Regions from separate parts of the Homo sapiens genome. Here region 2 is linked to region 1. The links come from fine-mapping of genetic effects on gene expression. Tissue or cell type: monocytes. Region 1 holds a variant in brackets; the other region holds the start of a gene. All regions are shown on one strand. Distances are between the middles of the regions.

Evidence for each region.
Region 2: it holds the start of LINC01624, and the variant in region 1 is fine-mapped to the expression of LINC01624 in monocytes (TOPMed, PIP 0.93).

The regions. Positions count from the first base shown.
Region 1 is chr6:170,236,479-170,252,026 of GRCh38, forward strand. No RefSeq gene overlaps it. Among named protein-coding and RNA genes, the nearest start is that of LINC01624, 28 kb to the right of the region's middle. RefSeq lists enhancers at 7,921-8,686, 8,687-9,452, 15,281-15,548. The variant G/A (reference allele first, on the strand shown) is at 6,304.
Region 2 is chr6:170,266,831-170,282,378 of GRCh38, forward strand. LINC01624 (long intergenic non-protein coding RNA 1624) reads left to right here and starts at 5,644. Exons shown (of 2, transcript NR_104177.1): 1 at 5,644-8,600; 2 at 12,379-12,639. LOC285804 (a long non-coding RNA gene) reads right to left here and starts at 9,932. Exons shown (of 3, transcript NR_126021.1): 1 at 9,855-9,932; 2 at 8,501-8,758; 3 at 1-1,455. DLL1 (delta like canonical Notch ligand 1) reads right to left here. Exons shown (of 11, transcript NM_005618.4): 11 at 15,376-15,548. RefSeq lists enhancers at 1-366, 367-943, 15,314-15,548.

The DNA of each region.
Region 1 (15,548 bases):
TCTACTCAACACGGTACATGGAAAACACACAACAAATCCAAAAGTAAGAGGAACGAAGATTTGGAAAGTGGCTTTCAGATATCAACTGAGCAGGAACAGCAGAGCTGGCCAGCATCTGAAACTAGCTTGTATGCCTTAGAAATTCACCCCTCCCTGCAGAGTAAACACTGTCTCAACACAGAACCTGTGCTTTGGAAGCAAGATGTGGTGAACATGGGGGAGTTTCCGTTTAAACGACTGAGTCTCCCTCACTGCAAAGGACAATGTCGCTGGATCCCACGTGTTAAACGACTGCGTCTCCCTCACTGCAAAGGACAGTGTCGCTGGATCCCACGTGTTAAACGACTGCGTCTCCCTCACTGCAAAGGACAGTGTCGCTTGATCCCACGTGTTAAACGACTGCGTCTCCCTCACTGCGAAGGACAGTGTCGCTTGATCCCACGTGTTAAACGACTGCGTCTCCCTCACTGCGAAGGACAATGTCGCTTGATCCCACGTGTTAAACGACTGCGTCTCCCTCACTGCGAAGGACAGTGTCGCTTGATCCCACGTGTTAAACGACTGCGTCTCCCTCACTGCGAAGGACAGTGTCGCTTGATCCCACGTGTTAAACGACTGCGTCTCCCTCACTGCAAAGGACAGTGTCGCCGGATCCCACGTGTTAAACAACTGCGTCTCCCTCACTGCAAAGGACAGTGTCGCCGGATCCCACGTGTTAAACGACTGCGTCTCCCTCACTGCAAAGGACAATGTCGCTTGATCCCACGTGTTAAACGACTGCGTCTCCCTCACTGCAAAGGACAGTGTCGCTTGATCCCACGTGTTAAACGACTGCGTCTCCCTCACTGCAAAGGACAGTGTCGCTTGATCCCACGTGTTAAACGACTGCGTCTCCCTCACTGCAAAGGACAGTGTCGCCGGATCCCACGTGTTAAACGACTGCGTCTCCCTCACTGCAAAGGACAGTGTCGCTGGATCCCACGTGTTAAACGACTGCGTCTCCCTCACTGCAAAGGACAGTGTCGCTTGATCCCACGTGTTAAACGACTGCGTCTCCCTCACTGCGAAGGACAGTGTCGCTTGATCCCACGTGTTAAACAACTGCGTCTCCCTCACTGCAAAGGACAGTGTCGCCGGATCCCACGTGTTAAACAACTGTGTCTCCCTCACTGCAAAGGACAGTGTCGCTGGATCCCACGTGTTAAACGACTGCGTCTCCCTCACTGCAAAGGACAATGTCGCTTGATCCCACGTGTTAAACGACTGCGTCTCCCTCACTGCAAAGGACAGTGTCGCTTGATCCCACGTGTTAAACGACTGCGTCTCCCTCACTGCAAAGGACAGTGTCGCTTGATCCCACGTGTTAAACGACTGCGTCTCCCTCACTGCAAAGGACAGTGTCGCCGGATCCCACGTGTTAAACGACTGCGTCTCCCTCACTGCAAAGGACAGTGTCGCTGGATCCCACGTGTTAAACGACTGTGTCTCCCTCACTGCAAAGGACAGTGTCGCTTGATCCCACGTGTTAAACGACTGCGTCTCCCTCACTGCAAAGGACAGTGTCGCTGGATCCCACCTGTGCTCTTAAACGACTGCATCTCCCTCACTGCGAAGGACGGTGTCACTGGATCCCACATGTGCTCTGTGCCTCTCACTGGATCCCACATGTGCTCTGTGCCATCCTCCCAGCCTCCAGGCTTCCAGAAGGGCAGGAGCCCGGTGCTGGGCTGGGCAAAGGAGCACCTGGTCCAATGAGGCTCACAGAAGAAGTAACTCCTGGCGGAGCCTGTCCAGGGAGAAATGCAGCCCAGCAACTCCACAGCTTCCTCAGAAAGGGCCTGTGCAGGGTGATGGAAAGGGCCCAGGAGGGCAGGCTGGAGCCCCAGAGCCGATTTGCACATGGAGGGGCTCGTACAGGGCTGGAGCTCAGGGCAGGAGTCAGGAACTCGCTTGTGTGTTCTTAAAAACAAAACAGCCCCCAGGCTCCAGAAGGGTCCTGACACCCACATCCCAGGGTCTCAAGTCCTCAGTCAGGAGCAGCTGCAAAAAGGGACTGCAACTGCCGTGCTCCATGGAGATGCAGTCAGCCCGGGGTCCCTCCTCAAGGGAGCACTATGCTGCCCGGAGGCAGGTTGGGGGACTGTGGCTTTTCGGCCATCGCAAACAGGAGAGACCCATGGACAGCACACCAGGCCCCGGCTGCCAGGTGCCTTGGGGTCTCTGTACATGCTGGCCCCTCTCCCGAGGAAGGTCTTGCTCCTCGGCCCCGCCTGGTCAGCCACAGTGGGTTCTCCGGGTGTCTGCTCAAATGCTCCTTTCTCAAGGGAAGTGCTCTATGGCCACAGCCCTTGTCAGACTGGGTTCAGGGCCCAAGTACAGCTTCTAGTGACCACGAGCCTGACCCTCTTGGCACTTGGAAAAGCCAAATCCTTGCGGGGGATTGTGCATGTCTCTGCCCCAGCCTCTCCCTGGGGTGAGGCCGTGCTATCTGAGTCCCGGGGCTGACCCAGTGCCTGGCTCACAGGACCCTCTCCACCAACAGCAATGGAGCGAAAAGCCCGATGTCTGGGGGACTCCAGCAGAGCCCCTCGTGACTCTTCCCCCTGCTTCACGGTGATGCCTGCACCAGCCCACAGTGGAAGAGAGAAGCTCCTTGTCAACTTCTGTGTGGCACACCGTTCCAAGGGATGTCGGGGGCCAGACTCCCCCAGGAACAAGAAAGGCAGGTGCAGCGCCACTAATACGGCGTGATCAGTTCAGAGCATCGCTTTCTTCTAAGCTAAAATATCAATGGTTTGGGAGGCTTGAAACGTGTTTTCTAGAGAGCCTGTGAGTATGGCTGTGTGGTTTTATCAGCCTCGACGCCCAGAGTGGCCTTGAAAACTAAACTGGGAGTGAGTGTTGGGGGCGTGCACTGGCCACTGCTCCCAGGCCTCTGAAGTATAAACAATGGGCTCAACTGCAAAGACTCCTGTTAGACATCAGAAGGAACCAAGGCTGCAAAATGCTAGGCATCAGAACAAGAACTCAGTCATAAAAATATATATTTATAACAAAATATAGCTAGAACATAAATGCCCAACAAAAGGGGGCTAGTTAAATAAACTTAGAATCTGTACCAATAGAACATCCTGTAGACACTAACAATTATGCGTAGAAGAAATTTCAAACCACCATCTGCAATTAGGTTGGTTGCTGGCTAGCCTCCACCTCAAATGTCTCTGACTTCTCTGTCTCAGAGCCACGGACTCCTTTGACAAGCCAGTGAAAGAAACTGACCATTTACCTAGAAAAACTCACCAACACCCACCATTTTGCCCAGTTTTAAAAGTCTCACAAAACCAACAAAGCCCACACGGAGACCTCCTACTGGGAATACCACATCTCCAGGGGCCACGCCTCCAGCTTCCACGCCTCCAGTGGCCATCACTGCCTGCTGCCTTGTCCCAGAAACCATGGCAAGAGTGCCCAGGCTTGAGCCCACACGGGTGTCAGTGGGGTGGGTGACACACATCTCTTCAAAAAGCAGCATCCTTGTTCCCTGCATGCTTGCTGAGCTTGACATAAGTGGAGTCCCCCAAACCCAGAACTCAGGTCCCCCACCAGACCTTAGTTTGGAATGACTGAACTACTGATCAGTAGGATACTCCAGCCCCAGAAGAATTAGGAAGGGCTGAGGGGCCTGGGGAGTGGTAGCTCCTTCCTAAGAACTCTCCAGCAGACCCCCATGTCCTGTAATACACAGAGAGGAGAGAAAACACCACTCAACCTGTTGTCCGTGGGGAAAGGGCCCTGTGGTTTCCAAGAGACCGAAGGATTCCAGACCCAGTTAAAACAGCACAATTCTACCTGAACTCAGGGACACAGGGACGCAGGCAAAGTCAACCTGGTTTTCCCAAATCCACCGCAGATCCCATGTAAGAGTAAAATGGGGCCACGCTTTCAGGAAGTAGCTCGTCCCTAAGTATGAAGCATCTGAAGTGGGTTCTAGAATAAGCAGTTCACCAAGAAGAAATGCAAGTGAACCATGAACATATTTTTATAGGTTAGATTCACAAGTAATTAAAATTGTACATGGTACCAAATTTGCAAACTTTTTAGTATCTATATTATTAATGTGATAAATATTATAATAAATACATTTATAAATATTCCATAATATTTAGTATCTGTATTTAGAGTTAGCAAGGACACAAGAAACTGTCATAAACTACACACACACGTTCAGATATTGGGAGGACAATGTAGCGTATAACTGAGAACCTTTCAAAGGTTTGTGCATTTTAACCAGTAATTCTGTTTCCCAAAATTGATCTTAAAGAAATAATTAGAAGTTTATGGAACCATTTTTATACGAGCATATTCATCGCAGCTTTATTTAATAGGAGTAATAAATAGATGCAACAATCATGATCAATGAAAGGGGGTTAAGTAAATTTTAGAATATCTGTATGATTAAACACTTTCTAGACATGATAAAATCATGTTTTAAAGAATATTTAATGACACAGGAAGATGCTCACAACATCGTAGTTAAAGAACTAGTTCCATTGCACGGCAATGAGTGTGCGGCTGGCAGTATCACACCACGCGCATGGGAATTTTGAGGAGAGTGAGTTTAATGCTATGTGGGTTTTTCTCACAATTAAAGGAAAGCTGCTTACAAAACTGAAGGACCCCAGTTTTGAGAAAGATGTATGTAATATAAGCAAAGGGAGGAAAACTTTAAGGATACACATTACATATTAACAGTGGCTCTGTTAGTTTTTTCTTTCTTCTTTCTTTCAGCTAGCTACAATGTCTCTTTATGAACTGAAAGAAAGGGAAATTATTTTGTTTCATATTTCTTTTTTTTTTTTTTTTAGATGGAGTCTGGCTCTGTTGCCCAGGCTGGAGTGCAGTGATATTTTGGCTCACTGCAACCTCTGCCTTCAAGCAATCCTCCTGCCTCAGCCTCCCAAGTAGCTGGGATTACAGGTGTGTGCCGTCACGCCCAGGTAAGTTTTTTTGTTTTTTGTAGAGATGGGGTTTCACTGTGTTGCCAAGGTTGGTCTTGAACTCCTGAGCTCAGGCAGTCCACCTGCCTCAGCCTCCGAAAGTGCTGGGATTACAGGCATGAGCCACCGTGCCTGGCCTTGTTTCCTGTTTCTACATGTGTCCCATTATTCTACTCCTGAAAAGTTAGCCCAAATAAGTTTTTTTAGCTCTAGAAAAAGAAAATATCTTTAAAGCAAGTTTATCCCAGAATTGTCTGTGAAAGCAAAGACTTTTACCATTTCAAATGTTCAAATAAGTATTAAAAAGAAGAAAATGTTAAATAAGAGAATATATCAAGTCAGTGGACTATTATATAGACAAGACAAAGGCAGAGACATGCACACATAATAATGTGAAGCAAACGAATCAAGGTTTAAAGTGAAGCTGTGACCCTAACTCTAAACACAGACAGTGGACGTTACGCATGGGAAAGGGAGGAAGAAATACCGGTCTCAGGCCGGGCGCGGTGGCTCACGCCTGTAACCCCAGCACTTTGGGAGGCCGAGGTGGGCAGATCACGAGGTCAGGAGGTCGAGACCATCCTGGCCAACATGGTGAAACTCCGTCTCTACTAAAAATAAAAATAAAAATAAATAAAAAAATTAGCCGGGCATGGTGGCAGGTGCCTGTAATCCCAGCTACTTGGGAGGCTGAGGCAGGAGAATCGCTTGAACCCGGGAGGCGGAGGTTGCAGTGAGCCGAGATCGCGCCACTGCACTCCAGCCTGGGCAAAAAGAGCAAAACTCTGTCTCAAAAAAAAAAAAAGAAAAGAAAAAAAGAAATACCAGTGACCCTAACTCTAAACACAGACAGCGGACATTACACGTGGGAAAGGAAGGAATACCACATGGCCAGTGCTGCCTATGCTGGCGAGACACAAATGATTTTATTTTTCTACTTCTTTCTTCTCTAGATTTTCTAGAATGAGCAGCAATTACTTTTGAATTGGAACAAATTGTGTTCATAAGCATAAAAATCACATCTAGATTTCTTTCTACCTCAAGGAGAGAAACATTTTATTTAAGGTCAAAGACTTGGAATTCTTCACACTTGCCCCTTGCTATACCATCGCAGACCGTAACGGCCCCAACAGAGACGCTTTGAGTACAGGGTGCCTGAGGCAGGATCCAGGCCTACAGAGGGCTCGACAGGCAAAGCCCCTCACAGCCCACAGGTCTGCCCCAAGACACTCCTCTGTGCGGTCAGGAAGCCATCTCTGAGCCTTGGAAAAGACGCAGGTGTGGCTTAAGGTATTAAAACATAAAC[G/A]TTGTAAGAAATCCTACTATCGTGTTGGCCGTAAATGTGATAACCCTTAAAGAATCTTTGGATTCATTTCTGAAAGCATTTAGAACACAAGTTTTCTTTCTCTCTCTCTCTCTTTTTTTTTTTTTGAGACAGAGTCTTGCTCTATCACCCAGGCTGGAGTGCAATGGCGCAATCTCGGCTCACTGCAACCTCTGCCTCCCGGGTTCATGCCATTCTTCTGCCTCGGCCTGCCCAGTAGCTGGGAATACAGGTGCCCACCACCATGCCTGGCTAATTTTTGTATTTTTAGTAGAGACAGGGTTTCACCGTGTTAGCCAGGATGGTCTCCATCTCCTGACCTAGTGATCTGCCCGCCTCGGCCTCCTAAAGTGCTGGGATTACAGGCGTGAGCCACCGCACCCGACCCCACAGGTTTTATTTTTCATAAGGTAAGCTATTAAGGGATGTCTACACCTACACACACACACACACACACACACACAGCACCTCCAGTCAGCACACAGGAACACAAAGACACACTCACATATATGGACGGCAGACGCCAGTCCCGCCACATGCAAGCACACACCAAATCACATTCTCCCTCCTCACAGAGTCATACTCCTTTCAGTGAAACCAGAACGTCCTCCCGAGAAAGTCTCCAGAGTGGAATTTCCATCCCCAGAGGTCACGGGGAATCAGGTCTCTCCTCTGCCCGCTGACCTTCCACTGAGGAGTCTGCGATTTACAAGAACTTCTTTCTGAACACTCCTGATTACAGACACTCTAAACTGGGTGCCGCCTGAGCTCATAATAAAGAGAGAGTGAGTATTTGTCTTGTAATGAAAACAACTGACCTCGCACAATAGGATGATAGATAATGCATCAAACCAGCATATGAGCCCTTTAGAATCTCACATTTGGAACTGGCCAACATCAATTATTTAAACACAAATTGAATTAACAAAATATTCAACATATGTTCTTTTAAACTCTGCTAAATTGGATGAGACATCTAAAAGCTGATCTGTGGGCTCAGCCTCCTTCGAGAGGGGGGCAGGCAGCGGGGCAGGCGTCGGGGAGGGGCGGAGTGAAGCGCAGGGAGGTGGTCAGCTCCGGGCTGTGCTGGAGGCCTGAGCTCTCCACTCCCAGAGGAAGGGGTGATTAATGCCACCACCAAATGTGCCTGTGCCTAACCCTGACCTCATCCAGCCCTGCTGCCACCATCTGCTGTTTCTAATTCCTCTGCAATATTTGTATTTGCTGCCTCCCTCCGACAAAGAGCGGGGGCGGGGAGCAGTGCTCCCTACTTAGCGACGTGTGATCTGGTTGGCTGGCGGGGCCCGGCCAGAAGCATCTGTTGCTGCAGTCCAGCAGCATCTGCCACTATTTCTCACTTTCCCCAGCATGCTGGGAGATACGGTTTCTCCCAAAGGTGGCCTTTCCATGCACACTGTCAATCCCATCATTGTCCGCCCGCCTGTTCCCACGGTGCCGGCCCCGTTGCCATGCTGCCGGGCCTTTGCTTGCTGGCTGTCTGTAATCCAAGATATTGTGTGACTGAGTTATGCCATTAACCCTCCTCCTATGCATCGGGACATTCAATTAAGCTCAACAGGAGAGGCCGGCTGAGAGGGAGGTCTGTCTGCTGGGGAGGGACGGCCCACTTCTAGGAGCATTTACAACAATAATAATAACTGCGACGACCCGCGGGTACTGTCATAAATAGTGCTGAGGGCCAGGGAGACAGGAACGGTTCTTGGCAGGGCAGCTTTCTCCTCTCTCACTGTTTTTGTTTCTTTAACTTAAAATGCTATAAAAGGATGCATTGTTTTCTCCTGATTCTTGATAAGGCTATTAAGCATTGTGATAAGATGTGTGTGTGAACGCTATTATTTATGTGTCGAGTGTTAAACACCTTCTGCTAATGGGGTGCAGCCTGGCTGTGCATGCACGCAGTGTCCCAAGCTGTCCCTGGGCCTCACCCTTGGTCAAACGCCCAAACATCCAGAGCTGCTGCGGGGACCTTTCCGAGGCGGGAAACTTACTGAGGCAGCGCCTGCACACAGAACTGCAGTTCCCCTGGAAGATGCTCTGAGGCCCAGACGTAGAAGGACAGCAGCCTGTCAACAGCAGGGCCGCCCTTGGCAACTCGGCTCTGTGTCCCCAAAACACTCCCGAGAGCTCAGGGAGGCCCCGGGGATCTCCCCTAATCACTTCCTGAGAGCAAACGGCCTTCCTACGAATGGCCAGGTGTCAGGATGGCCCCACAGCTGCACCATCCTCCTCACGGGCCCCCCACTGTGGCTGGTCCTAGGTGGCTGAGCTGAGGGAGCGCTGTGGTTCGCTGTCCCCGCAGGACACAGGGCCCCGCGAGAGAGGCTTGTGGCCGCCCCAGATGACCTCAGCTCCCTGTCTGTGGCCGCTTTGTCTGTCGACTGCAAGGTCTCCAGGCCACACGACCACTTTGCAGATGATATTTGAGTACAACCAGACTTTTAAAGTAAGTTCGGAGCAGGAAAAGACTTTCTTCAGTTAGAAATTTCAGTGCTGATGAGTAATGCCATATTGAATATTCAGGAATTCTGGATATTCTAAATTTGTAAATAATCAGCAACTTGCTGAGCAGGGGACGTTGACTGAAGGCCAACTGTGCACCTGGCAGAGACACACGAGGAGCTTGTTTTCTCCTCCTGCCAGGCCCTCGCAGGTGATCGGGTCTCCTCACTTTATGGATGAGAGATGCAGCTAGCGACGTCCCGCACCTGACCCTAGACAGCACCAGCTCCTGGGAGAGCTGGGACGGAACCCACGTCGGCCCCAGGCCTTCTCCTCAAAGGCTTTGCTGTCACAAAACGTGGATGAGGAATAAATCCAGGAGAGGCCGGGGGAGAGCACCAAGGTCAGATTGCACCACGGGGTGGGAGAGCGAGGGTGAGCAGCCGTCGCGAGGGCTCTCACGCCAAGCCTGCAAATGCAACCTGAGGGCCTGGGATTTTCCCACATGGCTGAAACGTGAACCCCTTCCCATGGCCCTGGCTGTGCAGTCCTCCTGGTCGGAACATCACACGGCTGTTCTCCAAGAGTGGTTCCTGCAAATGGCCCCCGCTGTGAAGCCCTGGGAAGCCCTGGGACCTCACACCCAAGCGGATGCAAGCAGCGCCTGCCTGGAGCCCTGATGCCCGGCTGCTGGGTGCCCACGGGGGTGAAAGGGAGATGTTTACATGGCAGGCGTGGGCTCCCCTCCCTGGGCGAGAACCGTGGGAAACCAAATTTTATAAGTGTGGTTGTTTGCCTCACAAACCAGCTTCTGTGATCATCCATTATCATGTCATTCATTACACTGCATCCAGTCTTAATCAGAACTTCCTGGCCATGCGGAACACGAAGGTGAGTGCTGGCGCCCTTCTGCAGGCTGCTGTGTCTCCGTCCTGCAGCCGCCCCCAGCACCGGCCCTCACCGCCCCTGCAGCCGCCCCCAGCACCGGCCCTCACCGCCCCTGCAGCCGCCCCCAGCACCGGCCCTCACCGCCCCTGCAGCCGCCCCCAGCACCGGCCCTCACCGCCCCTGCAGCCGCCCCCAGCTCCAGCCCTCACCGCCCCTGCAGCCGCCCCCAGCACCGGCCCTCACCGCCCCTGCAGCCGCCCCCAGCTCCGGCCCTCACCGCCCCTGCAGCCGCCCCCCAGCACCGGCCCTCACCGCCCCTGCAGCCGCCCCCAGCTCCGGCCCTCACCGCCCCTGCAGCCGCCCCCAGCACCGGCCCTCACCGCCCCTGCAGCCGCCCCCCAGCACCGGCCCTCACCGCCCCTGCAGCCGCCCCCAGCTCCAGCCCTCACCGCCCCTGCAGCCGCCCCCCAGCTCCAGCCCTCACCGCCCCTGCAGCCGCCCCCAGCTCCGGCCCTCACCGCCCCTGCAGCCGCCCCCAGCACCGGCCCTCACCGCCCCTGCAGCCGCCCCCCAGCACCGGCCCTCACCGCCCCTGCAGCCGCCCCCAGCTCCAGCCCTCACCGCCCCTGCAGCCGCCCCCCAGCTCCGGCCCTCACCGCCCCTGCAGCCGCCCCCAGCACCCGCACTCACCGCCCCTGCAGCCGCCCCCCAGCACCGGCCCTCACCGCCCCTGCAGCCGCCCCCCAGCACCGGCCCTCACCGCCCCTGCAGCCGCCCCCAGCACCGGCCCTCACCGCCCCTGCAGCCGCCCCCAGCACCGGCCCTCACCGCCCCTGCAGCCGCCCCCAGCTCCGGCCCTCACCGCCCCTGCAGCCGCCCCCCAGCACCGGCACTCACCGCCCCTGCAGCCGCCCCCAGCTCCAGCCCTCCAGGCCCCTGCAGCCGCCCCCAGCTCCAGCCCTCACCGCCCCTGCAGCCGCCCCCAGCTCCAGCCCTCGCCACCCCCAGCAACTGTGCTTATGGCCCCTGTTCTTTCTGTTTGTCACTCTTTCCACACTGAGGTAAAACCTGACGAACAGGAAGGAGTGTAAAAGGAACAGCTTTCAGGGCAGACCTGAGCCACAGAAAAGACACTGTTCAGGGCGATGCCGCCTCCCTGAGCATAAACACGGGCTCTGCCCACGCGGCGCTCGCCGGAACCCCAGGATAACAAAGCTGGAATGACTTCACCCCGGCTCCGACACGGCTCTGCTCTCCGTGTGTGATTGATGACATCAGTCTCAGCACCTCTCCTCACACACTCAGAACACTTTTCCTCAGTTGCCACCAGCATCCACCGAGGTGGGGTCATGAAGGGGACCCAGGGGCCCGGCGGCTGCTCCTTCCCATGCACTGGGCAGCTGCGGCCCATGGGCCCCTCCGCCGGGTGTACCAGGCTCCTGGACAGGAGAGAATGACGCCACGCAGGAGACGAGCTTGCAGAGGCAGGAGGGCAAGGGCAGCAGCAGAGGCAGGAGGGCAAGGGCAGCAGCAGACCCAGGAGGCACCATGAGCTCTTCCCGAGGCACTGCCTCACATGGGCGCCATCCACCCAGCTCAGCTCCCAGGGGCTGGGAAGTTTCCACAGAATATAATGGGGTGGTCTTTTCTAAACTGTAAATCATCGTACAGCCTTAGGGCAGAAATATCAAAGGCAAGGACAAAGGACCAGGATGCCAGACCTCCTGACCCATCACTGGGCCCCTAGAGCCAAGCCCACTCCTGTCCACACCTTCGTCACACGTTTACAGAGTGAACAAGTGAATGAATAATGAGACAGGGAGATGAAGGGGCATCTGGCCCCAATGCCGGTGAAAACCAAGATGCCGGTATATGCAGAGAAGAAAACTGAGATGACGGTGTACACCGAGAAGAAAAACGAGATGACGGTGTACACCAGAAGGAAACCAAGATGAAGTCAAGTCGAGGCCTTCCAACAACGGTCTGTGTGCGGCCCGCGGGGCCAGAGGTCCAGCCAGGGTTTCCGGAGGGCTCCCTGAAGGCTCACAGCTGTGCCTGGCACTGGCCTGCTGCAGACAGCCAGGGTCTTTACAACACGGGGCTGTGTGTGGGAAGGGCTGGATTCCCATGCAGAGGAAAAGCTGTTCACCAGCGTCTGTGGCTCAAAGTTACTGCAACGCAGAGCGGGGAGCGCTGGCCGGTATGAGCGGCTGCATCTCACACCACAGAAACGCACTTGGAGACGTTTCCCAGTGAGCGTCGCCTCTCCTAATGCTGAGCCCTGTGGGAGCAGAAACTGGAGCCGTCTCACTCACTCAGTAACAACTAAGAGCATGATGTGGAAGCCGGCAATTAAACCCCCTCCAGTGGGCCGCAAGGTTCCCCAGCCATACCCCACCATCAGCTCTCAGAGCGACGCGACAGGGAGAGCAGGGTGTGCCCGCATGGTCGGATGGCAGCCTCCGAGGCAGCTGCAGCCTGGTCTCCGGCCACCCTCCTCTGCAGCCCGACCCACACCGTGCGGGAACGGACATCCAGAGAAGCCACCTCATTTCAGCGAGGCTGTCCCCAGAGAATATGGAGACTATGGAGATGCAGTGAGACGTTGTAGAAGAAGGCGGCTGCAGGTCCCTTGTTAGAGCACTTTAGCCTAAAACAACATTAAAGAGTGAGTTGGAAAAGTTGATTTTTCCTGTGAATATTGGTGCATGCTCAGGGACCAGCAGCACAGCTGTCCCAGCGGAAATGGAGGAATGAAGTTTCATTCATAGTCGCACTAGAGGAAAGCCAGCCCAGGACGAAGCTCAGCCCAGGACGGAGAGTCCCGCGGAGTGGGGGGGGTCCGGCTGCCTGCCTTCCCCTCCAGCGGCTGCCCCTCGGTGTGGAGACCCAGCCCCACCCCGGCCCCCAGGCCTTGCCGGAGAGGGGTCTGGCCTGCAGCCCTAGGGGGTCTCACTCCCTCTGGGGTCCGGCTCTCTGGCAGCCTTCCTGACACCTTCACAGCAGCACATGCGGCTCCCACGCTGTCCCCCACCCCGCAGCTCCCCTCATCTTTAACTACACACACGTTCTTCTCCCTTTCCTTCAACTCCCCGGGGGTGGGGCAGCAGTGCTGTGAGGGTCTAAGAGGGGTCTGTGATGACTGAGGGTTTTGTCATATCCCATCCATCCCGTCCTGGCCACCAGCAGCCCCAAGGTTGGGCCGGTGCCCGTGAACATGGCAGGTGAGTGAGATGTGGAAACGGGACAGGCATCCCCCCGCCAGCTGTGGGGTGCGACCCAGGGCTGTGGGCAGAGCGGGAGCCACAGGCTGGGCTGGGCACAGGCCCCACATAGATACAGGATGGATTTCACAGCCCCTCTGCTGCTCCCTTTGTCGTGCTGAAGTGAGGTTGGAGCAAAATCCACACCTGCCCCGTGCATGGGCCTCAAACCCCCTTCTCACTGCGCACTGGGCATTCAACACCCAGGAGCAAGGCCTGGGAGGGAACAAAGTCTACCCTCCCCAGCTCAGAGACACACACTGACCCATGCTCGGGCCGCAGGAAACACAGACCAAACCCAAGATTAAAAACCCAGTACCTACAATCAAATCTCGACCTTTAACGCAAGCTTTGTTTCTCACCTGAAAGATAGAATTTGACCTTAAAATTGGGGGTGATTTCATTCTGGATATGATCAGAGGACTAGTGAGGAAACTGAGGCTGAGGCCATGACATCACATCTTACAGAACCCATGGGAAAGTCCGCACATCTGTGGGGGACGCTTTGTGTGTGTTCCTGGAAAGTTGCAGGACTGTGGTTGGAGGGTGTGGACGCGTGCGTGTCCCACGGCCTGGGCAGGATCTCGCTGTGATGCCGGCCTGGAAAGACACTGGCCGCGGCCGCTGCCCTTCCCATTGGAACCAGACACCAAATGGTGTCTGCTTTGCTCGGTGCCTGTTATTTTGAGGAGTGGCCCTAACAGCTCTCCTGAGGGGTGGCCTTGTTAGCCTGCCTTTCCCAGAGCCCCTCGCTGTGAAGCCACCCCTGTAGCAGCAGCGTGTCTCCGGGAGGACCCAGAGAAGCAACATCACCCATGTGCTGCACGGAACCCTAACCCCCGCATGTCCACCCTCCTGCCTCTGGGCCTGGACACCTCAAGACTCCAGGAAGAAATGTCTAGTCCCTTTGCACCTCCCAGAAGCTGCAGCAGCACCTGCGGAGCAGACACAGACGCAGACGCAGACGCGACTTTCTCTCAAGTCAAGACCACATCAGACCTGAAAATTCAGTCATGCCCTGGCCTGAATGCAGCACCGCGAATGGAGCACTTTAAACTTTCTTAAGAGCTGTGAAAATGTATCTTTTAAAAATATTTTTATTTACTTAACATGTTAACAGTTCCTGCTAGGCACATTTTACCAAAAAAAAAAAAAAAAATACCCACACACACGGTTTGGGGCATCCAAAGGCTCTGGGAGCAGCTGCAGGGCTCACGGGGGGCGACACAGGCCTGTGAGTCAGCTCTTTTACTACGCTTTGTGCTGCCTGTATAAATGACCTAATCTATCCGCCGGGCGTTTCAAGGGGGAAAAGGAAAGGGTTTATGAAACCCAGGTTGAAATGGAGACACCGAGGCACAGTGCCTCTCCGGAACCCAGAGGAGAGTCACGGAGCCCACTGGAGAAGACCTCAGCCGCCATGAGACCCTGTGCATTCATTTCTGTGCATGCTGTTTTTAAATTAGAAAAACTCAAAGCTTCTCCCTGTGACAACAGCCATTCAGGACGAAGCAAGGAGCCATCCTGACACTTCATCAGCTGATTGATTGATAGGCTGGAAAGTCTACGGCGAAAGGGAAAAGAAAAAAGGACACGGGCGTTCACTGACGGGATTCGTGGCTTCCCTCGTGTGGCCACCTCATCCAAACACGGGCCAACGGGAACTTCACAGGAGATCACAAGTAATCCTGCACAGGCAGAAATTCAGATGTGCGGCCTCACCTAATCTGACTGGGATTTGGAAGAGGTAAGATGTTTGTTGAACTGACTCATCGGTGATAGTTCTTTTGTTTCAAATAAAATGGAAGTAAGGCTGACACCCACATGCCCTGTGTTCAGCTTGTGACCTGGAACGGATTGTTCCTGCAGAAGGAGCTGTGTGATCCAAAAGCCCAAGTATTTCTGGAGATTTTCCCCTTGGCTTGCTGCACCATGACCATAAGGTGGACGCCTCTCATCTGGAAACCAGGGTAGTAACATGAAAGGCTAAGATTATCTAGATGTTCCTGGGACAGAACGTGGAGAACGTGGCCCATCTGAGCTGTAGCCCTTTCCAGGGGCGTGAGCTCAGCATCTGCAGAAGACGCCTGTGTCAGAAGGGACCAGTGGCTTTTCCCACCCAACGTCCACGGGGCTCCAGGCCCAGTGGCCCCTGCAATGCCCCTGGGCAGGCACCTGCTTGAGCCCAGGAACATTCCAGGAAGCCCCACAACGGTGGTCCTGCCAACAGACCCCAGCCAGTCATCCTCCCCCACAGGCCGCCTTTTCCTGAGGGAAGCTTCCAGAAGCCAGGGTAGGCTGCAGGCCCAGAAAGCCCACGAAATGCCAGGCAGGCACCAAGGTGTTCCTGTGGCACTGTGTGAGCACCCATCGGCGGCGTGCACGGCCCTCTATGAGCTCACGCGTGTCAGCGTCTGCAAAGCCCATCGGCGGCGTGCACGGCCCTCCATGAGCTCACGTGTGTCAGCGTCTGCAAAGCCCATCGGCGGCGTGCACGGCCCTCCATGAGCTCACGCGTGTCAGCGTCTGCAGAGCCCTCCACCCGCACATGGGGTCCCAGCCACCATTCACTTCTCCTTACAGCTGACACGAGTCGTCCCAAAGCTGAGTGGCCTT
Region 2 (15,548 bases), 30 kb after region 1:
GGCCTGTGTTGTCCGCTTCCTGGGACGGTCCCCTGCGTCCAGCACACTCACGGCCAGGGCCGCACGCAGGCCTGTGTTGTCCGCTTCCTGGGACGGTCCCCTGCGTCCAGCACACTCACGGCCAGGGCCGCACGCAGGCCTGTGTTGTCCGCTTCCTGGGACGGTCCCCTGCGTCCAGCACACTCACGGCCAGGGCCGCACGCAGGCCTGTGTTGTCCGCTTCCTGGGACGGTCCCCTGCGTCCAGCACACTCACGGCCAGGGCCGCACACAGGCCTGTGTTGTCCGCTTCCTGGGACGGTCCCCTGCGTCCAGCACACTCACGGCCAGGGCCACACGCAGGCCTGTGTTGTCCGCTTCCTGGGACGGTCCCCTGCGTCCAGCACACTCACGGCCAGGGCCACACGCAGGCCTGTGTTGTCCGCTTCCTGGGACGGTCCCCTGCGTCCAGCACACTCACGGCCAGGGCCGCACACAGGCCTGTGTTGTCCGCTTCCTGGGACGGTCCCCTGCGTCCAGCACACTCACGGCCAGGGCCGCACGCAGGCCTGTGTTGTCCGCTTCCTGGGACGGTCCCCTGCGTCCAGCACACTCACGGCCAGGGCCGCACGCAGGCCTGTGTTGTCCGCTTCCTGGGACGGTCCCCTGCGTCCAGCACACTCACGGCCAGGGCCGCACGCAGGCCTGTGTTGTCCGCTTCCTGGGACGGTCCCCTGCGTCCAGCACACTCACGGCCAGGGCCGCACGCAGGGCTGTGTTGTCCGCTTCCTGGGACGGTCCCCTGCGTCCAGCACACTCACGGCCAGGGCCGCACGCAGGGCTGTGTTGTCCGCTTCCTGGGACGGTCCCCTGCGTCCAGCACACTCAAGGCCAGGGCCGCACGCAGGCCTGTGTTGTCTGCTTCCTGGGACGGTCCTGTCTGGGAAACCCGGACAGTCGTTCCTGTCTCTTCAGTCTTGGTTTTCTGTTAGTATGACACCAATCTCCTACGTTGAGTTGCCTCCTGTAATTCCCTGCAGGATCTGTAATCACATGGCGTCTGGTTTGGGTGCCGGCCACACGTCCGCTCACACGTGCTGTCTCCGACTCCCCCCAGCCCCATGTGCAGCTCCCTCATGGCATCTTTTTGGGAGGGCCATTTTCCACGTCATTTATACCATCTGGGTGCTTTGAACCCAAAAAGTTCTCAGAAAAAGCTCACTGAAAAAAAAATGTATAACAGACGTGCCTTTGAAAAATTCATTTGATTGATGGTAGTAAAAGGCTCTGTAGTGGGCTGAGAGGTGTTCCTCCAAAATCCACGTCCCCCCAGAGCCTCGTGATGTGAGCTTGTGTGGAAACAGGTCTCTGCAGATAGTTGAGAGTGGAGATGAGGTTGAGCTGGATGAGGGTCAGCCTGGAATCCAGTGACTGGTGTTCTTATAAGGACACGAGACACAGAGGCAGGGCAAGAAGGCTGTGGAAGAGGGAGGCAGAGATCAAGGTGATGCACCCACAAGACAAGGGCACCAGGATCTCACAGCACTCAAAGCTGGGAGAGGCCTGGAGTCTCCCTGACAGCCACAGAGGAGCCAGCCCCGCCCACACCTGCATCCAGGAATTCTGATCTCTAGGACTGTGAGAAAACGAATTTCAGTTGCATAGAGGAGGTAATTTGCCATGGCAGCCCCCGGGAACTCACTCGGTGTACAAGGAGGAGGAAAGTGCCCGCTACTCCTAAGATAGAGCAGCCACACCCGAGGTAAAGGGGCACCCCATACCCGGAACAGCCCCCACTGCCCCACGGTGACCATCAGTCCTTGTCACTGAATGGATTCAGAACTCAACAACCTCACCACCCGCTAAGGAAGCCCCGTGGGAGGATGGGTCACTGTCTCCTAGGTGTGAGCCCGCACCTCACCCGTTGCCTGCAGCCCTCCCGGGAGGAAGGGTGACATCTGGGGTGCCAGGGCCCTCGGCCTGTGGGGCAAATGCTGGGCGGAGTGGGCTGACTGAGGCAGGAAATGTGAGCAGCTATCCAGAGAAGTCGGCCCCCAAAGCGTGAGTCTACTAGCAGCCTGAGAGCTGGCTACTGGCAGTCACTGGACAATTCCCACTTTACTTTGACCTGATAAATGGCAGGAAAAGTGCCCACCAGGAAGCCTGGGAACTCAGCAGGTGGTTGTGACGACAAGGCTCAGAGACCAGGTCACACTGGCTGGGGCCACTTTCTACGAAAAAGGCAGGCCACGAAATCCCTCCCTAAAACCCAGTCAGTGTGGACAACGGGATTCTACCTAATGCCTTGGGGACATCAGAGGTAAGTGTGCTCTTGTTTCTTAGGTGACATTCTTTTTTAATCTAAAAATATCTGTTGCCACCATTTAACGGTATGGCCCTAAGCAGCTTTCATTCCCACAGATTCAACACATTGTGAGCAAATAGCACCCGTTACTACAAATGCCTGTGAGGGAGAAAAGCCTACAGCCTTCCCCACAGAAGCATGTGTGACGCGGGGTGGGGACCCTGTACCTGCTCATATGTATGGAGAAAGTGGGGACATCTGTAATCCTCCACCTCAGGAACTAGCTGACTTGACTTGGACCCAGCTTTTCAGGAGGCACAAAACACAAATGAGAATCAAGTACGAAGCCCTTAGTGTTCCGGTCGTTCCAAGTCTAAGAGCTGTTGTGGGCGCCACAGAGCCTGCTGCTACTAGCGATCCCAGTTTGGCAAACACCGGGGCCTCACTTTGTCTCTTGTGTGGGGAATGCACACACCTCACATCTGTCTCACGGACCATAAACGCTCTCCCGAGAATCATGTTGACTCTGCTCACCGAGCCCAGGCCCAGCACAAAGACACACCATAAACACCTGCGGAGGGAGCGTGGCCCAGCCCAGGGACTCTGGGGCTCCCAGAAGACAGGGCCCTCCCCCAGCCATGCCGGGAATGCTGCGTGACAGCGGATCAGGAAATGGGGCAGAAGCCCATGAAACCCTCGGAGTCAGGTCACCAGGGCGGGTGCTCGCCCACCCCCAACGCCTGAGGGTGACATTTGACAGTTTACACACAGTCTCTGAGCGCCTGTTTTAGCCTAGGTTTGTAAAGGAGTCAAGAATTCATCTCAGAAAGCTGCCAGTAGACAACCAAATGCTATTTCAAAGCAACTGCAGGGGTTAGTAATTGAGATTTTTTTTATCCCTCTAACTTGCTACTTCCCTAGTTCTGTGGCAGGCCTCTTGACTCAGCTTATAAATACTAAAACTGTTGCTGTAATAAGAAAAAACAAGAAACATTCCTTGAATATTTCAGAGCAAAATGCTTGTGAAAGCCCTTGGTTTCCCCACAGAAAATGTATTTAAAAGAAGAAGAGCCGTGAATCGGTGGCAGCTGCTCCCAGCACCTGTTCCCCGTTCCCATCATTGAAGTTCTCGTGGCATTTTGGAAAGAACTGAGCAGTTTTCCTAGAGAAATACTCTGGGTTCTCGATTACACAGTTGACTGCACTCAACTGTTGGCTGAGACAAAGGGGCCTGAGAGGTGTATCCGTGCACAGAGCTCCGCACCCTGAAACCGCTCAGGGCATGGACCGCGGTGACGTGCCGCCTCCCTCCCAGTGCCCACTGAAGCGTCCTGCTCCCTTCTTCGCACAGATGGCAGTGTGGGGCCAGGGGACGTGTGGCATCATTTGCCCATGCCATTTTCACTTTGTTTTTTTTGTTTGTTTTTGTTTTTTTGAGACAGTCTCACCCTGTCACTCAGGTTGGAATGCAGTGGCACAATCTCAGCTCACTGCAACCTCTGCCTCCCAGGTTCAAGCAATTCTCCTGCCTCAGCCTCCCGAGTAGCTGGGATTACAGGTGCACACCACCATGCCTGGCTATTTTTATTTTATTTTATTATTATTATTATTTTTGAAATGGAGTCTCACTCTGTCACCCAGGCTGGAGTACAGTGGCATGATCTCAGCTCACTGCAACCTCTGCCTCCCGGGTTCAAGCAATTCTCCTGCCTCAGTCTCCCGAGTAGCTGGGACTACAGGCACACACCACCACACCCAGCTAATTTTTGTATTTTTAGTAGAAACAGTGTTTCACCATGTTGACCAGGCTGGTCTCAAACTCCTGACCTCAAGTGATCTACCCACCTCGGCCTCCCAAAGTGCTGGGATTACAGGCGTGAGCCACCACGCCCGGCCACCTTCTTCACTTTCATAGAATGTCTGGACTAAGTCTTCAAGGCACAAGGGCATCAAGCTCTAATGAGCACACGGGGGCACCACTGCAGATGGCCAGGGGGCAGGCGGAGGCCACCATGCACCCTCCCTCTTCATCGGCTCGCAGCCCCTCCTGGGGAGCTCTCGCTGCCATCACAAGCTGAGAGGCTTACAAGACACACATTCATCCCCTCACGGTTCTGCAGGTCAGGAGCCTGACAAGGGTCCCACTGGGGTAAAAAACCAAGGCTTGGCCAGCCTGGCTCCTTCCGGAGACTCCGAGAGAACCTCTTCATGTCTCTTCCCGTTTCCAGAGGCCACACATTCCTGGGCTCCTGGCCCCTTCCCTGTCTCTGAGCCACACTGCATCTCCAGCCTCGCTGACCCACCCCTGCCGCTGCCGAATTCCTCCCTCTGTCCCCTGTACAGACCCTGTTCTTCCACTGGGCTCCCCTGGGGAATCCAGGCTAATCCACATCTCAGGGCCTGGGGCTTAATCCACAACGTGCTGTTGGCTCTGGGGTCGGGAGGTTGGGGAGGCCGTGCCCGGGGGCCTTTCTTCTGTATTCCACACCATTGATCCACATCATGTTCAAATGATCTCCTAAATGGAATGGCTTCCTATCAACCCACGTCACTGGCTTCACCCCACTGTTACCAGGAGCTGGTTCTTGTTGGGCTCTGGAGGCCAAGAAGGGGCTCCTTCCCTCTGCCCATCAGCAGGTTGCTTGGCACGGTAGGGTGGGTGCCCCCGTGAGACACAGCTTGGGAGCACGAAGCGGCCGCAGGCCCTGGGCCCGGGCTACGGGCTGGGGAGGAGGGAGGATGAGGCGTGCAGACACTGAAAGGGCGGCTGCAGAGACTTTTTTGTCCAGAAGTAACCCAGAGCGAGCAAGTCCCTGTGGGTGAGGACCACGCATGCCCGGTTGGCGCTGATGTGTGGGAAAACGACAAATGGTGCAAGCCACACGGGTCACGTGCGTCTCCTGTGCTAATCGTGGATTTTCATTTCCTCCGGAGACCCAAATGAGAAAGTAAAAGTGTATGCAGGAGTCAAACCCACTTTCTAGAATGTGGTTAATTTCTAGAGGCAGCTGGGTTTCCTGTGGAGAAGACAGGTTTGCCTACGCAGCGTAGAGAGGAGACGGCTGTGTGGGCTCCAGCCCCAGGGGAAGTAGGGCCCGGGGGTCACCGCGAGGAAGCTCCATCGGCCGCGGCGGCTCTGTGGAATCTGAAGCGCGTGGTCTCACGGCCACCTCCCCCTGCACCAGCCGTGTGGCCCAAGGTGATGTCTGTGTGCCTTGGTTTCCTGATGCGTAGAACGTAGCCAGCTGGAGGACAGGGGGGCTGTCGGGTTCTTTGTGTGGAGGTCTCCAGAAGGCTGTTCGTGCTGTAGGCAAATTCCACAAGACCTAGGAGCCAGGACCCCAGGTGCCTTGATGCTGGAGGGAAGAACCTGGCTGAGACGCACCTGCAACTGTTTGGAGCTGGTGACCTTGGGCCCAGCACACCCTCGCTGCTGGTGGACACAGCCCCTCACAAGCAGCTGCGAGGCCCTCGGGCAGTGGCATGGGCGCCGTCGCTTCCTGCTAACCCCACATCCTCATTTCCCACGCTTCTCCTTCCACCTTCCATGATCACTGGGACCTACTGCCTCAGGAACCGCCTCAGAGGGACAGAGGGAAGCAGACCACCCTTTTCTTCAGAGAGTTCATGGCCCAGGGAGGGAACGCTGGCTGGGGACGATCACAAAGCCTCTCTGGTGCCCGGCCAGCGACAGGGACCCTCGGGGCTGCGGGGGGAGAGGACGCCCCTGCCCTGGCCGCACAGGGTTGGGTTAGAGGTGAGCTGGGGCCGGAGAAGCCACGGGAGCCATGTGGCGCCTTCTCAGGAGGTGCTCCCGCAGCTTCGCCTCCTCTCGTCTTCCGTGCGCAGGGAGGGACCAGCCCAGTGACAGCTGGGAGCAAAACTGGTCACCTCCCCTCGGGCTCTGGGCAACTGTCAACCTGCAGCTTTGAGTCTCTCCCCCTGGAATCTTCTATCTGGGGTATGATAATGTTATTACATACGTTGGTTATTTACAGCACAACATGAAAAGGCAATTTGTAAGGACTGGTCCGTCTAATCGGGGCGAATCACCAGTCTTCTGAGGCATCGTATTGAGTTTAGTTTCCGACTGATTGCTAAATGCCTTCACGCTGCGTGGATATTGCCCAGCTCTGCCTCCCTTGCTGCAGGTGCCCTGTGGATGCTGAGCTTCCACGGAGGGGCTGCTGCCCCCTCTGCCCCCACAGCTCAGCTCGAGTTCACCAGTGGGGAAGGCCGAGGGCCTGTGGAACGAGGGCTCCGTTCCCCCACCGCAAGGAGTGAACGGCACCGAGGTTCCCGCCGCCGAGCCGCAGCGCTGTGCAAGCCCCCGATGGGCGACGGACACCAGGCCCCAGCCCAACGCGCTTCCTTTGGCTCCTCCTGAACTGGGGGGGGGGCCTCGCACCCGCCTTGCCAGGGCCCTGGCATCTGTCTCACTGGCCTTTCTCACCTGGTATTCCAGTGAGGAGGGTGCTTCAGTTTTACTCCCTTTGAGAGGCAAGATCTTCTCAACCCACAAGAAGAGGCGACCAGGTCCTGGGTGACTGTCGAATAAGCCTGGTCCAACTGGGAACAAGTCTTCTGGGCCCTAATTTCCCACATGGTGTTCTTGTCTGACAAAATCACAGCCTTCCACGTTCAAGAATCTTCATTCATCTCTCTCTTTCAGCGAATGTTCCCTAAGCTCTCCCATCACTGAGCACTGCTGCCAACAGCCCAGCTGCATGCTACCACTTTGGTTTGATGGAGAGAAGGGCTCAGAACCTCGTGCAAGTGGGAGGCAAGCACAAGTACAAAGGCATCTTCCGGAGCCAAGGTGGGGGCGCAGAGGGCCTGTCTCAGTGAGATCCCACTGTCTTCCAGGGTTTGCCACCGCAGCAGTAAGCCCTGGAGTGGCCCCACACCCTAAGATCCACGGGGGAAAAGGTGGATGTCTCAGCATGGGTTTGTAACATTGTTCTCTTAAATAAGCAGAGGATGCAGAATTAGGAGCAAGCATTCCGAGGGGTGGCCAGCTGTGGCTTCCGAGGGGCACCTGACCTCCCATCTGCCTTCTGAGCACCAGCTGCCCCAGGTGAGGTGTGTGGAGTTCCACAGCTACGATGAGCCGTCGCCATGGAGAACAGCAGCTCACGATTGCTTTGATTTAAATTGAATTAAGGTGAAAATGAATCAGGGCATAACTCTCTTCTTTCAGCCAGACGTCTTTCTGAACCGGTGTATATATGACTTAAAAAAGTCACGAGGGTTTTGGGCCCAGGGATCAGGCAGGAAGGAAAGGCAGTGCCGTGCAAGGAGGGGTGGGTTAGAAATTGTATCCAGAACCGCTGTGGCTTGTACTGAAGGAAGAAACTTCGTAGTTCTGCTTCTATTTCTACCACAACACCAAGGAAGGTGTGTGGGGTGGGGAGCAGGTACACACAGGTCCTTGGTATTACCAGTGGTCCAGGATTGTATAATTCCGCTTATTCTACCCATCCCACAGCCTGACCCTGACTCAAGTCCTGCAGCCCCTTGGTGCCCTGAGCCCCCTCCCCTGCCTGTTCCTAAGCAATCAATCACCCTAAGACCCCGTTCTAGGTTTCAGCAGATGATGACGAGTTAATCAGACAAATAAGCCATGGGGTAGGCAGGGGTTGTGGGTGCTGCTTCCTGGTCCCTCTGGCAAACCAGAAGGGAGCTGCCTCCCTGCGGTCCCCACCCTGTCTCCAAGCTTCCCAGCAGAGCCCCACATCCAGCAACTGGGCCCAGCTTTAACCAGACGGAGGAGCAGCCTGACGTCCTGCCAGCCCCAGAGACAGATGTGGGCACAGGAAGGGAAGGCAGGGAGGAGAGGAAGCCAATAAAAAGTGTTAGCATCCGTCAGGGTGACCCTTTGCAGAACCTGCGTCAGCCTGAGGACGCAGGGAAAGGCTGCGCGGGAGAAGCCGCTGTTAGCATCTGCCAGGGTGACCCTTTACAGAAACTGCGTCAGCCTGAGGACGCAGGGACAGGCTGTGCGGAGAAGCCGCTGTTAGCATCCGTCAGGGTGACCCTTTACAGAAACTGCGTCAGCCTGAGGACGCAGGGACAGGCTGTGCGGAGAAGCCGCTGGCCTTTGCCGCTTGAAAGCTGGGTCCCTGCGGCCTCCTCACCCCAGGGCTCCCTCAGAGAAATTCTCATAGAACCCCTAAGCAATACGCGGGGAAAGAACGGATGCCACCCGGAAGCATGCCGAGGAAGAGTCCATTCATGGGAACTTCCAGAGCCGGTCACAGAGGCCAGATCCACGATCAGGTGCATGGCAGGGGCTTGTCCGCAGGACCGGAACCTTGGTGAGCATCAGCGATGGGCACTGTGTTTCCCCAAGAGTGACCTGGGGTGCCTTCAGGCCAGGCGCAGCTTCTACTCCTCATTTATCTCCACCACGCAGAGCAACGTGCGGCACAGACGAAGCACTCAGGGAACATTTAAATGAGTCCGTGGGATGCACCTAAAAGAAATAGAGGTTTCCAAAGAATAAGCAGGTACAAGTTAGACCCCACAAAAAAGATAGGCAGGCAGGCATTTGTTAAGTCCATTTCATTTCACCCTAGGGTTTTAACATCAAAGTATCCCTGTAATGAAGAGGCATTTTGTTACCCAAATTCTCATGTTCTTCAAGAGGGAGTAGAAAGGAAAAAAAGATGAAAAGGGAGAAACAGTACAGCCCCTACCTTCAAACTTACTACCCCCACCATACACACACACAGACACACACACAGTAAATGACATGGATATTTATCCAGTCTGCCATAAGACACCTGGCCCCACCTTATAAATGAGGGAAGCCTGGGCCAGCACAGTGGCTCTCAACTATAAGCTCAGTCTTTGGGTGGTCAAGATGGGAGGCTCACTTGAGCCCAGGAGTTTGAGACTAGCCTGGGCAACATGGCAAAACCCCATCTCTCCAAAAAATACAAAAATTAGCTGGGCATGGTGGTGGCACATTCCTGTGGTTTCAGCTACTCAGGAGGTTGAGGTGGGAGGATCCCTTGAGTCTAGGAGTTCAAGGCTGCAGTGAGCTGAGATTGTGCCACTGCACCCCAGCCTGAGCAAAAGGAGTAAGACCCTGTCTCGAAAAAAAAAGAGGGAAGCTCGGTGCTGGGTATGTCAGAGATGGAAAGACTCTTTCCAGTCTTTATGTCTCATTGGACAACGTGAAGATTCAACTTCCAGGGCTGCTCAGTAGAGCCAAGTCTGGAAAACAAGCTCGTGGGCACCACATCACAAGCACGTTTTCCCTGGAGCCCGCGTTGTCACTACTGTATTCCCAACTCCACTCCGAGGGCCTTTCAGGGTGGAGGAGAGAGCTGTGGCCAAAGGCAGTGAGAGGCAGAACCCCCAGCCCAAAAGCCAGATTTCAGCCTCAGGGACGAGCCAGGGCTCACCACCCCCGCGACACCGCAGGCCTCTGTGCGGAGACTGTGCTCAGGCCCAGCGCTTGCGCTGGAGAAAAGGCGGAGACATTCAGAACCCAGGGGATTCCAGGCTGCCTTCTCCACAAGGGTCAGGTTTGTGGAGGAGAAAGGGGAAGATTCTCCACCCACCAGGCGCCTCCTGGACTGTCAAGAACTAACAGGGACTAGATCACCCGAAATAGCAGATCAAATTGAAACAGCATACTTAGCTTTTGGAACGAACCACGAAGCAGGCAGGAGGACCGGAGATTGCAACATACTGACCTTCCGAGTCCTGTTTGGGTCAGTTTGTTAAAATTAGTTTGTCCTCCCTGGAGACACGGCCAACGCAGCCTTTTCCGTGGCAGGAGTCCAAACACAGTCTCTGCTGCTCTCCACGCACGGCAATGGGAAGGCAGCCCTTTCCCCTCCATCACTCCGGGGAGCTCACGTGCGGACGGGGTCCTCTGTAGCATCTTTAAATTGGAGGTGACTTTGTACCGTTGGAGCCGGGGGCAGAGTCAGCAGTGACCTCAACAGTTAGGACCAGGATAAGTTCCTTCTGCTGAAAGAGGACGTTAAGATGAGAAGGGCTTGGCCGGGCGCGGTGTTTCACGCCTGCAATCGCAGCACTTTGGGAGGCCGAGACCATCCTGGCTAACACGGTGAAACCCAGTCTCTACTAAAAATACAAAAAATTAGCGGGGTGTGGTGGCGGGCGCCTGTGGTCCCAGCTGCTCGGGAGGCTGAGGCAGGAGAATGGCGTGAACCCGGGACGCGGAGCTTGCAGTGAGTCGAGATCGCGCCCCTGCACTCCAGCCTGGGCGACAGAGCGAGACTCCGTCTCAAAAAAAGAAAAAAAGAAATGCTTTTAGCGCACTTAGAGCATTTAGAGCAATGGGATGATTAATTCCATTTTCCATTTCGGGCCTCATCTCAAGTATTTTTATTTCTTTCTCTTCCTCACCTTCCTGCCACCATTTGTGGTGGCAAATGTGACATTTCACATTTACACCATTGTCCAGTTTCTCTAACAGCTTGACTTTCTGTGCTATAAACATAAACACTTCCCCTTTATCCCCTTTAACAAACTGCTGTCTCTCTAGGGGTATCTGCAGGCCTCTTTGACATTTTCAACATTAACTTTAAGCTACTGAGCAAAAAATGAGCAAAAAACCCAGTCAGGGCTAGAGTGTAATCATGACGAATAAACTGGGGGTTTCATGATATTTCTGACACCTGTTTGACTACAGAGACACTGAACTGTCCTCTGCCAGGTCCAGCCTGGGCTCTAGAGCCTGCGTCTGAGGCCCCTGCCCCACTCGTTGGGAGCAGCTCCAGGGCTCCCCCACCTCCCTTCCCTCTCCTGTTTCAAAAGTATTGACTTTGAGGATCAGAAATGGTCCTAACTGTTGCTTTTTCATTTTAACTAAAACTCTCAAATTTAGAGTGTTTTTCCCTTTTCAATACACCTTTTTAATATTGCTTTTTTTTTTTTTTTTAAGATGAAGTCTTGCTCTGTCCCCCAGGCTGGAGTGCAGTGGCGCAATCACAGCTCACTGAAGCCTCGGCCTCCTGGGCTCAAGCCGTCCTCCTGCCTCAGCCTCCTGAGTAGTTGGGACCACAGGTGCCACCAGCACACTCAGCTAATTCTTTTAAAATTTTTTTGTAGAGACAAGATCTAACTCTGTTGCTTATTGCATTTTTTTATTTCAAATGTTTATACCAAATTTTTTTCTAAGCTTCTAAGAAAGAGCTGAAATTCACAAAATCCAATTCATACTAATTCTAGAAGAAACAATACTTGCCCTTCTGCAGGTGAGCAATTCCTATTGTAAGCGTCTGACACCAGACGCCCTTCCCCCCTTCTTCCTTCCTTCCTCTCTCCCCCCACAGGTCAGGGTGGGACAGCGCAAGAGAGAAAGTTGGAGACACCACGAATCCCGTCACAAACACTCTTAGGCCACTTCCATAAAAGTGTAAGAGGTTCTAGGCATCAGGCTAAAGTACTGCTGTTGAGGTCCATAATGTCTACACCAGGGTGCCACTTGGGGGTTTGGCAAGGCAGGCTGAGGAGCAGGAAGTAGCAGATTCTGATCCTGTCTCTGAAAAGTGATTTTATTTGTTGAATATCCCAGCACTGAGCTGTGAATTAAGATTCACTAAAGGAATCAAGGTTCTTGTAAAATATCCAGGACCACAAAGCAGAGATATTTTTCCTTATGGTTCAATAATTTTAAAGTTCAAATTAACTTAAAACAGTAACATGCTTTTCGTGAATGGTGCTTTGACCATGGGTTTAGACACCGAGGAAGCAGAGGAAGTTGGTGCACAGGAAACAGCCTGGGAGGCCCTTGGCAGCTGAGGCACACGTCTGCACCTCTTGCCATGGAAGGTTGGCTTGTCTTCTAAAAATCGTATCCGAGGAAGATTCTACCACTTCCTCGATAAACCACTGACAGCCTTGAAGTTTTCTTCATGCCTCGATCCAACGAGAATGCCCTGTCCTGCAATTTTAGATGATTTCCTCTTACACTGACCTTATTTTCTTTGAGAACGTAATTAATGACATGAGTCTTGTCATTTTTCTTTTCTGTGCTTTAAAAAAAACAAAAGGTTCTGATGCTCATGTTGCAATACATTTTAAAATGCTGCTTCATTCTGCCTTCCTCAGGTACCTCACTCCGGATTCTATTAAAATCGTAATCTCTAGAAGATGGATTCAGCAAATGCCAGGCGTGGAGCCATGAATGTTTCCATAAGAAACAAGAAAAATAGAAAGAATGTGTGTTAGCCAGACGACACCTTGATGGCACCCCTGCCACCTCCCCAGCCCTCCTCAGTGGCAAAGTGATTTAGCTCAGTTGGGCTTCTCCAAAATGGAAATAGTCACTTGTTTGAGCAAATAAATGTAATGAAAGTTGTTCCGGAAAAATTCTAGTACTCTGCACTAATACATATCATCTTAAAAACTTATCTCTGAATTGTTTCCAAATGACAAATGTGTAAAGTTTCTAAGTACTTTTTGTTTCCTTATCCTTGTAGTGGAAGATACTACATTCAACACAGACGTACTGTGTGCCTCCTGCGTGTGAGGCCTGGTGCTCATGGCGCGTGTCCTTGCATGCAAAATTCTACTCTTCATCTTGACGTTTCTAGACATTCAGCTGTTCCTCAGGAAACGATTTACCTTCCCTCTGCCTTTTCTGTAAAATGCATGGACTGAGGAATTACTAATGCATAACACTTTGTTTGCTGGATACCAAGTAGACGCACTCTTACCATATACAGGGCTGTATCTAGGCAGCCAGTTATTAGAATAAAAACAGAATACTATGTTCATCCGCTCAGATAATCCCTGTGTTTGGCTTCATGTTATGGTTCGAAACTCCTAGTGACATTGGTAAGAGTGAACACGAGAATGAAGCTTCTTTCATGATGAAATGTCCTGAGTGTGTGTCTGTGTGTTCTCAAATTATAGCTCACATGGATAGAGAACGTTTTCTTGCTTCAGCCTCAAGTGGGGATTGGGTTGCAGTGGTGAACCAGGGCCAACACAGCCCGCCCTCTTTGAGGTTGCAGTCTCCTGGGACACACGCCCACTAAACAAACAGCTACACGAATTAATCATGCCACAGGGCAAACTGCAAGAGCACCATCACGTGCGGCAGGTAACCCAGGCGGGTCATTTTCGTGGCGGAAGAAGGTCACACTGGAAGTCACCAGACAGATGGAAGATCCCACTCAAAGTCGCAGAGTGGGGGCGGATGGAGAACCAGGCTGCCAGGGCGCTGGCTGGAGCCGAGCGGTAACAGACCCGTGGGAGAATAACGAAACGAGGCTCCAAGACAGGCGGGAGCCGGATGGTGCATGACCTGAGAGGCCAAGTCAAGGATTTTGAACTCCACGCTAAGAGCAGCCGGAAGCCGTTCGCTGGCGCCAGCTGAGCACATGCGCAGAACCGTGCCCTGAAAGGCACCGTCCCCTGCAGACGGGAGGAGGTGCTCCCAGCACTGCTGCAGACGCTGCCGTTTCCCTTTCAAGGACTCAGCAGAGTGGGCAATCACCTAGGCGCGCCACCAGCGAGCCTGAGACTCTGCTACCAGCGTCCTTGACCGGACTCCCGCTCTCCACCCAGTTTAATTGGCTTGCTTTTGGCCTTGTAAGATTTCTCATCTGCGATGTGCGTATGCAACCACAGCAAGCCTCCCTCAGATGCATTCTGCTGTGGGTCACGTCACAGACACGGCGGTCCATACACACCCGGAAACTGTCGTGTTTGCGTGTGCGTGTATTCACTGTATGGTCCGGCTTAATGCTTTTGCTTATGGGAAGTTTCAAACGTGTACGAAAGAGGAAAGAACACGGAAGTGAGCGCCCCCATGGGCCACTCCCAGCTGCAGCGACCCCCAGCAGTGCTCGTGGGACTCCCCGTGCCACCGTGCCCGCGGCGGGGGGCTCCGAATCAGTCCCAGGCCTCGTATTGTTTCATCCATAAATATTTCAGAATTTTCTCTAAAAGATAAGGTCTCTTTTTAAACTGAACAGTAATAACACATCACATCTAAACTATTTAGCAGGTGCACTTTAAAATCATGTGGATATCCCAGTCAGCGCTTACATGTCTCCAGTGGGTTCATAAAATTTTTAAACTGTTTGAAACAGGAACCAGATCCAGACGCTGCGATGGATTGATATGTCCGTGTCTCTTTGTATCTATGGGTTCCCCCTCACCATTTTCTTGTTTTTTCCTTGCAATTTATTTGGCTACAGAGTTCCCTGGATTCGGCTGCGCAGATGCGTGGGGCGTCGAGGAAGGAGTTTTCAGTCCCGTGTTTCCGTAACTGGTAATGAGACTGAGAGCTGTCATCGGATTCAAGCTCAATGTTCTTAGCAAAACACTTCTCCTCTTTGCTGGTGTTGCTGGCCTGGCATTTAACGTGCCCTTAATGCAAGGAGGAAATGCAAGCGGAGTCGGGTCTGAGGGGAGTGAGCGCCAGTGCCTCCGCGCAGCTCCTGCTACATCGGTCGCCCTCTTTCCATCCTGGGAACCGCTCAGCGCTTTGAGGTACGCGCAAGTTAAAAATGCAATCACTACCATAAGGAACCCGGGCTTAGCGGGGGGCAAAGCGGCAAATGAGGGGTCAGCCCACAGGGAGCCCGTGCGGTCCTGCTGAGCCAGCAGGCGGGACGCGCTTAGAGACGGGGCTGCCCACCGACGGGAAGCGGAGGAGCAGCTTCCGTGACTCCCACGCCCCGTCTGGGGCCATGTTGGCGTCAAACGGCGACAAAATCATGACAGCTGTGACCCACTGGGTACAAAATAACTCACAAGTCTACACTGACATGAATGAATGAATGAATGAATGAATGAATGAATGAATGAGGAACGCTCATTCTTTCTGCGGAAAGAACTAATAAATGCATGGGGGGATGGAATTAGAAAATCGCGGCTGCTTCATGCGCGTGCCTGCTCTTACCAAGTCACCTCATGATGGCCAGCAAGCAGCTTCCTGAGGGAGGAGAGGAACGGGCTGCTTCTCATGGATCCAGGGAAACCAAAGCCTTGAAAAGAGAAACACCAAGGCCACCTCTGCCCTCAGCCTCGCGGGCCGCAGGTGAGTGAGCACACCTCCGCTCTAAGGCAAAGCCAAGTAACTACGCCTTCTGGTTGTCATTCATAAAATTTATTTTGGAAAAATATTTTAAAAAGGAATTTCTTCATTAACAAAACAGTAAAAAACTCAAATAACATTTGCACAATATTCCATAAATACATTTATATACAAAAAAATATAGTCACATAGACCCGAAGTGCCTTTGTACATATTTACCAAAATTTAA